Linked DNA regions of Homo sapiens: region 1 is linked to region 2. Evidence: fine-mapped expression QTL. A gene starts in region 2. The other region holds a variant in brackets. All regions are shown on one strand. Distances are between the middles of the regions.

The links. PIP is the estimated chance that this variant, and not a neighbour inherited with it, causes the effect.
Region 1: its variant is fine-mapped to the expression of CAPN15 in whole blood (TOPMed, PIP 0.92).

Annotation. Positions count from the first base shown.
Region 1 is chr16:471,474-476,697 of GRCh38, reverse strand. The region is part of intron 3 of RAB11FIP3 (RAB11 family interacting protein 3); the gene reads right to left. Among named protein-coding and RNA genes, the nearest start is that of RAB11FIP3, 48 kb to the right of the region's middle. The variant AT/T (reference allele first, on the strand shown) is at 3,087.
Region 2 is chr16:524,908-530,131 of GRCh38, reverse strand. CAPN15 (calpain 15) reads right to left here and starts at 2,420. Exons shown (of 14, transcript NM_005632.3): 1 at 2,103-2,420. LINC00235 (long intergenic non-protein coding RNA 235) reads left to right here and starts at 2,725. Exons shown (of 1, transcript NR_024121.1): 1 at 2,725-3,285. RefSeq lists an enhancer at 3,300-3,861.

The DNA of each region.
Region 1 (5,224 bases), 53 kb after region 2:
TCAAGCAATTCTCCTGCCTCAGCCTCCCAAAGTGCTGGGATTACAGACATGAGCCACCGCACCTGACCTTGGACCAGCTTTTAAAAAGTCAATGGACTGGTACTTCTGACAGATGCCCGATGCCCTTCCCTGGCCAGTGTGGACCCTAAGTCCCCAACAGAAAGCATGATGTTTCTAAGAACAAACCCACACCTTCTCTCAAACAGCTCATGGAGCCCTGAGCAGAGCATCTGTCCTACGAAGGGAGGGAGGTCCGGGCAGTGGGGCCTGCTTATTTCACCAAGTTCCTGTTAGACCTGTAGCTGAGGATGGTGCCCCTGCAGGCAAAAGCCAGTGCCGCCTTAGAGCCACCTGTGCCTCCTCAGAGCTTAGACAGGATGGTTTGGGATGGAAAGAATTCTCCACGGACACAGGAACAATGAGGCAGATTCTACACAAACTCAGACTCCCTGTAAGCTGGATGCCAGGGCACCCTGCCAAGCCTGGAACTCACACGCTCCGCTCTGGACCCACCTTCACCTTCTCATTTCTAAAGTAAGCCTGAGGGCCAGACGCAGTGGCTCACTGTAATCCCAGCACTTTGGGAGGCCAAGGTGGGTGAATCACTTGAGGCCAGGAGTTCGAGACCAGCCTGGCCAATATGGTGAAACCCTGTTTCTCCTAAAAATACAAAAATTAGCTGGGTGTGGTGGCGGGCGCCTGTAATCCCAGCTACTCAGGAGGCTGAGGCATGGAATCACTTGAATCTGGGAGGTGGAGGTTGCAGTGAGCCAAGATCGCACCACTGCACTCCAGCCTGGGTGACAGAGTGAGACTCCATCTCAAAAAACAATTTAAAAAATAAAAAATAAAGTAAGCCGGGCCTCCCTGCCATTGCAGAGTGGCTCCGTGCACTGTAGATCCCACAGAGATGAACAGTTCCACTCCTCAGCGGCTTCGGTGACTGCACCCACCCCTTTATTTGCTCTGGGGTTGTGGACGTCCACTTCCATGCCATCGCCATCGATACTCAGAGCCCCTGGCCGGCTGGATGCCCTGGGGGTTCCAGACAGCTCATGAGGCTCACAGGAGCCACCCCACCTGCTCACTTCCCAATTCAGCCCTGCGGGTTGGTTTCTGCAGTTCAAGGCCTCCCTACATGGAGTTTTCCAGGGCAGCCATCACCTGCCTTTCCAGAGACAAAAATGTACCTCAGAGCACGGTGCCTGCTCACTCCCGGCCTCCTGGATAAAATGCAGTAACAGCTCACACCGGCCCCGGCAGTTTATTTTATTTGCCAGCCAGCCAGGACCTGGCCTTGCCCAGAAGCCATCAAGTCTATGCTACCAACTTTTTAACATTTTTACAAATTACCAATGTTAAGATGAACTCGCTTGAAAATCAAAGTGCATCTTGGAAAACGTCGCTATGTTGAAACGTTACATTCACTAATTAACAAGTCCCCTAAATCACCAGCGGACAGAGAAAAAGCCCGTTCAGGGCCATCAGTAACTCAAGTGGGGCCAACACTGTCCCCGTCACAGTTCCTTCTTCCCTGAGCCTCTCTCCACCACAGAAATAGGAATACTGGGCACAGTGCACACTACTGCCTCCTCTTACCCTCAGATGCTGGCCCGGGTGGCCTCACAGGCTGGGCCTGGCTCTGTACACACCTTCAGGAAGGGCATGCTGTTGGAGACCGGCTCCCCATCGTGTCTCCGTCCCAACCGGGTCACTGGCTTTTCTCAAACAACAATGTCACCTTCCTACTTGCTTGTCATGCTGGGGTTTCTGCAAAGCCTGTGCGCTCACCTGGAGGCACATCACCACCTAGGAGAAAGTTTAACCTGCTCCCAGACACGCTCTAATAAACCTCCTGCTGGTGTTGCCCAGGGAGGGGAAGGCAAAGTTCAGGAAGTGTCCTTGCTGGTTTAAAAAACGGTTAGTCAGTCAGGGCTGAAAACAGAGTGGCTTTTGTTTTTGGCTTCCTAAGCTGATAATGGTTTGCACAAAAGACACATTTCACTATCATTTCACTAAGGCAGCTCTTTGCTCCAGACATCGCCAGTAGTGGGAGAAGGAGGGAGGACGGGAGAGAGCGCGGCCCGACGATTCTGTGAGATGCGCCTTACACTCCCTGACTTTCCCTTCGCTCTTCCAGAAACCCGACAAACAGCCCCACCACCCCCTGGGCTCCACCTGCTCAGATCCTCAGACATCACCATGCCCAGGAACTCAGCGGCGCCACAGTCCATCCCCTTCTACTCTCCCCACTTACTCAGACACCATAGCAGCAACTTTCCCGTTATAAGCTGCCTGCTGAAAGGATCCCTGGGAAAACAGTGCGAGCCAGCAGACCCACTAGCTCGGCCATGACTAACTGCACATTTTACCCGACCACCCCGGTGTGAGCACTGCGATGCTCCCAGTAAAGAGAAATGGGTCTGACTGGAACCATTCAGAATATCAATCAATCAACCAATCAACCAATCAATCAAAGGTTTATTTACCTGAAGACTACCAGTGGAGGGTCCCCGAATAGGGTATCTGGATGGAACACATACTCCCTACTCATATCTTTATTAGACTTTTTTTTTTTAAGATGACATGATGTGCAAGCTGTTTTTTAAAAGAGCAAATTTTCCATAAGTTTCACAGTATCGAACTCCACTTTGTGGAAAATTACATCCCACCCTTAAAAAGCAAAGCAAGACATGGAGGAGAGGTAACTGCGTATTCACTAAGGGAAAGAGGCGCATCTGAAAAGGCTGCATGCCAGATGGTTCTAGCTCCGTGGCGTTCTGGAAGAGGCAGAGCTGTGGAGACACGGAGGATCGGTGGTTGTGGGGGCTGGTGTGAGGGATGAGCCGGCACTGAATCGACTCTGTGACACTATAATCGTGGACCTGTCAAAACACGGAATACACACCACCAAGAGTGAACCCTCAACTACGGACTTTGGCTAATACTAACATATCAGGCTGGGTGCGGTGGCTCACGCCTGTAATACCAGCACTTTAGGAGGCCAAGACGGGTGGATCGCTTGAACTCAGGAGTTTGAGAGCAGCCTAGGCAACACGGTGAAACCCCATCTCTACAAAAAAAAA[AT/T]ACAAAAAATCAGCTGGGCGTGGTGGTTACTGAGTGTGGTCCCAGCCACTGGAAAGGCTGAGAAAGAAGAACACTTGAGCGCAGGAGGCGAAGGTTGTGGTGAGCCAAGATCGAGACTGTACCACCACACTCCAGCCTGAGTAATAGAGCAGACCGTCTCAAACAAAACAAAACAAATAATCATGTAACGTGATCCCGGAATGCTCTACACTATGTTCCATTTTCTGTAAACCTAAAATTGCTCTAAAACATGAAGCATATTCATTTTTTTAAGTCAAAAAACTTTCTTCCATTCTAAAAAAGAAATCAGGATCTAAAAATATGAGAAGGATTAGCTCTGACATGTCAGGTTCCCACCCTTCTGAAGTGACAAGCGTGAGGCTCGGCCACACCCTTCAGACCACGTGGGCCTTTAAGGATAAAATGCACTGGTGCCTTTGGTGCCTCGAGTAACGTCACTCAAGGTTTCCCTGCCCAGGGCTGCCATAACGAACTAGCACAGACCACGGGGCGTGAAGAAACACCAGTTTATCCTCTCAGTTCTGGAGGCCCGAAGTCCAAAGCCAAGGTGTGAGCAGGGCTGGCTCCTGCCTAAGGCTCTCGGAGAGGATGCATCTTTGCCTCTGCTGGCTTCTGGGAGCCCCAGGAGTTCCCTGGCTCTGGTCAGTCTCTGCCCTGTCTTCCTATGGTCTTCCCCCTGTGTGTCTCTCCCGTCTTCCAGGGACACCTGTCACTGGATTTAGGGCCCAAACCAGCATGATATCACCTTGAGATCCTTAATGAACTACATCCGCAAAGACCCTTTTTCCAAATAAGGCCACATCCACAGCTGCTGGGTGGACATATCTTTTGAGAGGCCACTCTTCAGCCACTGCACCATACATAGGATATAAACAATCAACAATGCCCTAACAAACATGAGAGGGGAACAAAAAGACGGATACACGTGAGAAAGAGTGCACAGGCACATGAACGCCCAGGAACACACAGTTCCCCGGACGTTGCAGACCAAGGGCTCTGGGTTACCCTGCAGAGCCTTGGGCATCTCCTCGTGAAGAAGCCGGGTCCTTCTCAGGGCACAGGAGCCACCGTCTGTAGTCCTGGGGTCTCCCAGCACGTTCTGCACACTGCAGCCATGCGAGAGGGTCCAACTCCCACCACACGCCCTCTTAGCCAGCACCTCACTGCTGCCTCACGTGCAGAAAGAGCACACCAAGGCCAAACATGGGACCCACGGTGGGCGCCCTGGCCCCAGAAGCTGCAGCCCAGCTGATAACTGGGACACCGCCGTAAGGCAGAACCACCCCCAGGGTCTGTGTGGGCAGAAGTTAAGCTGCCCACCCAAGGGTGAGGGTGACTAATCCCTGGGGCAGCTTCTCGGAACAGGGAACTGAGTATAATACCATGGCTCCCACGGTACAGTGGCGTCCAAAAGCAACTCAAAAACTACCCTGTGCCAGCCTCAGCTTTCGAGGAGTCAGGGCTCAGAGGACTGACATGAGAAGCCCAGGCCCTACCGGCCAGCAGCTCAGCCCCACTTCTGGTACCCTTGCTCGGCAGCAGGCTGACCAGGACTGGCGGCTGCCACCTCCACCTTCCCGGCGGCCCCCAAGGGCTCAAGTTCAACTTCATGCATTTTCTGCTGCAGCCACGTGGCTCTCCTGGAATCTAACCCTCCAGACCGGCGGACATGGTTACGCTCTGTCGACCACGGCTGTGCTCGAAGACCCTCTCCCCAGCTATGTTGAGAACAAGGGACCCACAGTGACAGGAGACACAGGAGACGCCACGTCACCATGACAACCCTGGCTGCATCTGGGAGCAGGGTGGAGGACAGCCAAGCAGGGGCAGGCATTAGTCAGGCATCCCCAAACACAGAAAATCATTTGCAAGTTGACAAAAGGAATCCTCCCAAGCCCTCTGCTCCGCCTGTGCCTGCCAGCCTGGCAGCGGGTGGTCATGACATCACTGCCCACCCCACTTCTGCTGGCGACAGGCCCTGGGGGAGGATTCCTGCCCAGGCTGACAGGGCGTGTGGGACAGACAACTGTGGGCCTCCCGTCACAGCCACAGAGCCCCACGGTGCACACAGGGCGGGAGGCCCTTCCTTCACGCCAGCTTCTACGGAAGACAGCCC
Region 2 (5,224 bases):
ATGAGAGGCCAGTGGCTCCACACAGCTGAGGCACAGCCTGGTGGTGAGAAAACCCACATCCACACCGAGTGGGTACGAGGGATGCGGAAGGGCTTTAGGCAGAGAACAAGTCCCACTGGGCTTCTGGGCACTCCTGCTGTGCCAGGGGTCAGAGGGCAGGACCAGAGGGACAGAGCAGGAAAACAGGAGAGCAAAGCGCACGAGGCAGCCCCCGGGTTGGGGGCCTCCTTCTTCTGTGTCTTATGAGGAAACCACCCAAGCCCACCCTCCGTGTCTCCTGTCATTTCAGCCTCACGGTCCAGGGCCGAGTGGCCACCCAGGACAGACACAGACCTGACAAGTCACCAGCCTTCCTGGGTTTCTGTCACTGTTTTTCAAAGACCCCAAGCTGTTTTGTTTAATGATGTCGTCCTCCTTCTCAGCACCTGTCCACGCCTGTTGCCATGAGTAGAGGCATCACACCGCGGGCCAGAGGGCTGGACCAGGGGCAACTCGGCCACCAACGGCCGAGTTCTTCACTGAGCGGCTCAGGCCCATGAACAACACCTGTGGTTCCGGAGGATTTTCCGGGCAGCAGAATCCTTCCCTCCAATTGCCTCGTGTGAACTGGTGGAACCAGCAGGAGGGAGAGACCAGGCGCTCAGCCTCCCTCGGCCCCTCCCCTGCCATGAACAGCTGTCTCCAGCTTCGGTTCCTCACCTGTGGCACTGGGGTTACCGGAGTGCTGCCCAAGGCCAGGGCAAGAAGCAAGTGAGGGGTGCCCGGAGAGAGAGCCAGCAGGGCTTGAGGCTGTCACACAGATGCAGCATTACAGGGGACCAGCCACTTCCTGCTCTCAGAGACCACGGTCTGTGGAGGCCCAGACAAGAGGCCCTGCGCAGTTATGCAGTTACTGAGCCTCGGGCTCTCCTGGGGACTCAGAGGTCACTGGCTCCTCTGCCAATCAAGGAGCTCTGGAGAGCCTCAGACACAGACAGAAGCAGGAAAAAGAGGGGTGCTCCTCCCGCAAGCAGAAGGACCTCGGAGGAGGCAAGGCACACCCAACCCAAGGCCAGGCCAAGCTGGTTTCCTGCAGGACCTGCCTCCCCCAGACAGGCCAGAAAAACAATTTCTCTTGCCCCACTTCACAGTTGAGAAGTCACTCAGAACCGGAAGGGAGAATCACCCCTATATCCTTGCCCAGCCCCAGACTCTGGAAACGCGGAGGCAATTACGGGGCACTCCCACACTGAACTGTGACTCACGTTTCCGCACCCCTCAGACCTGGGCAGAGGAAGAGATCCGGGTTTCCCGAAGGAGAAGCACACAACTCTTCAGCACCCAACGGAGTCCCAGTCTTCCCCACTGGCCCCACACACCCAGGCCTGGCCTCAGGTTCTGGGCCTCACCATTGCTTTCCGGGTCTTGTTACCTGCAGTCCGGTAACAAACTCCAGAGCAGTAAGGGGGCCCCGAGAGCTCGCCCGGCCAGGGCCAGCTGACCACACAAGAGTTCCCCCGGTCAGGACTAGAGGGGCCCCTTCTGCAGCCAGCGGGAGGACAGCAGATTTGCAACTTCCCAGCTGGTGCCGCAGCAGCCCCAGAGGAACACGGAAGAGAACACTGGCATGGCTGGCACAGACGGGGCTCCCGCCAGCCCCTCCACGCCAGGTGGCCGCCCCCAGGCCGTTCCCCAAGTGAGGGGAGTGATGCCCGCACCAAGCACAACATCCCTAAGGCGGCCAGGACCGCACGATGGGCCCGGATATAAGGGCACTCAAGGGCAGGCAGGGCCGAGGCCGCCTCCGGTGTGCGCGGCCCCCGGGGCTGGCCTCAAGTGACCCACATGGCCCAGGTCCCTGCCGACTTCCCGCCTTCCTCTGGGTTCCTCTGCGAAGCATCGCCCAGCCCTGGCCCCCACCAGCCTGGAGGCGCCAGCGGGCGGCGGGCTGACCCCACTCCGGGGGCCCTGCCGTCCCTGCCCTGGCTCGGAGCCCGGCGCGCCCGGCCCCCGAGGCCTCCTGCGCCCCGCCGAGCCCGCGCTCCCCGCCGCCCTCCGGGCCCGCGCTCCCCGCCCGGGGTCCCCGGCTGGGCGCCCGGCCGGGCCCGGCCGACGGGACTCACCTCCACAGCCCGGCGGCGCCGCCTCGTCCTCGCGGCCCGGGCAGCGCGGCCCCGGCCCCCGGGCCCGCTCGCCCCCGCCGGCCGATCCACAACTTCTGCCTCCGGAGAGCGGCGGGGCCCCTCTCGCCGCCGGCCGCGCTGCCCGGACGGCCTCCCGCTCCTCAGCCGCGGGGCGCCCCGACCCGGCTCCGGCCCCGGCCCCTGCCCGCGTCCGGCGCCCGCCTTACGCTGCCTTCGTAGCGTAGCGCCCGGCCCGGGCCCCGCGGCTACGGCGCGCCCGGGGCGCACGCGGCGCTGTGAATCGCGCGCCCGGACTACGGCTCCCACAGGGCTGCGCGGCGCCGACGGGGCGGAAGCTCGGGGCGGTGCCTGCGCGAGGCAGGCCGGGAGTTGTAGTCCTCGGGTGGCGCCCTCCCAGTCCGCCGACCGCCCGGGCCACTTCTCCTGCCCTCGCTGCTGGAGACGGCCGGGCCCGAGGCCTCGGTCCCCGGGAGGCGCCGCGCTCCAGGATTATCAGGGAGTGGGGCGGCCCGAGGAGGAGCTGGAACTACAACTCCCAGAGGGCCTTGCGAGGGGCACGGAGGGGCGGGGCCTGCAGCCGCGGCGTCTGCGCATCAGCGGCGTCACAGACGCGTGGGGCTCGCGGGGAGCCGGGCTGGGGCCGTCCGTGTCCCGCGGGGCTCTGGGCGGCCGCTCGACCGAGGACCCACGACTCCGCCCCGACCCCGCCGTGTTCGCGAGACCCGGAGACCCCTTCGCGCCTTCCAGGACCGCCCCTTTCGCGACGCTGCGTGCTGTGCTTGGTCCTGGCGGCCAAGAGCGGCGGTGGCAAGGGGACCGCCCTGGCCCGAGACGCGGCCTGGCCTCGCAGCGTCGCTTGGGCACAGCCTCTCTAGGCCCCTTCGTCCTCGGTCGCGGAGGGACGCCATTAAACGGCCACGCCGGGCTCAACTGGGACGCGGCCCACGGCGCCCAACCAGGGCCTGGGGGAGGGAAGCCGGGGCGACTCCTGGGTCCTTCCAGGACCCTTGCGCAGGCCTCATTCTCTCCCCGGAGGTCCCCTTCCCGCTGCCCTGAGGCCACTCTCCTGCCAGCAGCTGCTGGGCCGGCTCTCGGGAGAATGCCTTGGCGTCAAGCTTATCAGGCTGCAGGGCGGGACGCGAGTGCTGAGGGCAGCCAGACTCCCGCTCTTAGGTGCACTTGAGGAGCCTGAGAAGGCAGTGGCTCTGCGGGAGAGGGAGACACAGGAGCAGGGCTGGTCCGCCGAGATTCCGGAGAGACGGTTGTGGGCCGATTCTGTGGCGAGATTTACAAGTGGGAGGTTGGGTGACGATTGCTCCTGGGCCAGAAAATCTAAGCCAGTCTCAGCAAGACCTACAAGGCCAGGGCCAGTGCTCCTCAGAGGATATTCATGCTCCAGGAAAGCCAAGGATGGGCCTCCGTCATGCTGAGATGCCGCAGCAGGGACACCTGTGTCCCACGTGGAGCTCGGCTTCTAGCTGCAGTCAGTGCAGAAGCTGGCAGGAGGGGTTTATTTCTGTCCTCGGAAGCTTTTGGTAAGGACACTTCATTCCTGTGTCTTGGACACCTCCCCCTAGGTCTGCTGCCCCCTCTGTGGAGACAGGCAGGGCAGCTGGATGTGCCGTTTGTTCCCAGACTATATCCATGCCAAAGCATCCCAAGGGCAGGAAATGTGTCCCCGGGGGCCAGTGGGGGTCTGGGGGCACAGAGGGCTGCAGAGTGAGAGCTGGCTCTCCTCTCTGCAACTTGGACAAGGCTCTGGGACCCTGTCCTCCCCAGCTTCCTCACCTGCATGGCAGGATACTGGCCAAGTGTGGCTTTCGAACCACAGGAGAGGGTGCAGTCAAGGCCTCACTCAGGGACCGCAGGTTCTCTTCCCTTCCCAGTCCTTCCCTGGCACTGCCTAGGTGGCTCCCTGGCCAGGGGCCAGTGGTCTAGCCAGCAGGCCTTATAACCTCCCCACCAGAGAGGCAGCTGCAGTTGAACCTGTTGATCTGATGCTGAGGGCCCTGCCAGCTCACTGCAGAGTGGCCAGTTCTGGCCAGTTTTGCTAGGCCAGGCCCATTTGGGGTGAGGAGAGGGTGGGAGCACCCCAGCTCTCCCCAGTAGCCTGTCATGGTGAAGGAGGAAGCCCATTCACCCAGAAGAGGGCCTCAGGAGGCGTCTTCAAGGTGACTGAGGTTTCCCCGCACAAGGAGAGTGCTGGAGGGAATGGGTGCGATGAGAGAAATGAGTCACTCGTGCCTCCGTGAGGCCAGCCTGTGATTGTCTTGAAGATTCTGAGTCACAAGACATCAGGCACACAGGCGTGAATTGTAAATGACTGCACAGCAGAAGGTAAGTGACTCTGGATTATCCAGACCATTGACCGAGCCCTGCTCCGTGCCAGTGCTTCCTGGCCTGAGGACACGACTCTCACATCCAGACAGACCTGAGCAGCTAACGCAAGTGCGCAGAAGCTCGCCAAGTGCCCAGAAGAGCCAAGAGGCGAGCCATGAATCCCCCCTGGAGGAGAAGAGGATGGGGAGGGCCAAACAGAAAGAACTGAAACTGGAGGCATCTGTTCAGGCACCCAGAGAAAGCCTCACGCGCACAAAGCAGCAAACAGAACAAACCCCAGTGCCATCATGGAGCCCAGACTTGAGCACACAGGGACCCTGGCGTGGAGCACGAGGGTGCCAAGGCCCGCAGGTGGCTGACTTGTGTGCTCTGGTGCCATGCTCAGATTTGATGGGATGACCCTGCAATTGCCTGCTTTGTGAGCCACACAGGCCTGGGTCAAAAAGACGACGGACCACCAGCCTGGGCAACACACAAAGCGAAACCTGTCTCCACTTAAAAGATAATTAGGGTGTGGTGGTGTGTGCTTGTGGTCCCTGCTACTTGGGAGGCAGAGGCAGGAGCATCACTTGAGCCCGGGAGGTTGAGGCTGCAGTGAGCTGGGATGGCACATGGCGCTCCAGCCTGGGTGACTGAGTCCGTCTCAAAAAAAGAATGGGCGGCCGGACAGGTGAAAATAACAATGGACGGGGCCCTGGGAGAAGTTCCCGCCTTTCTCTGGGCCACCACCTCCAGGTTACTGGACTGCCAGCAGGTAGAGG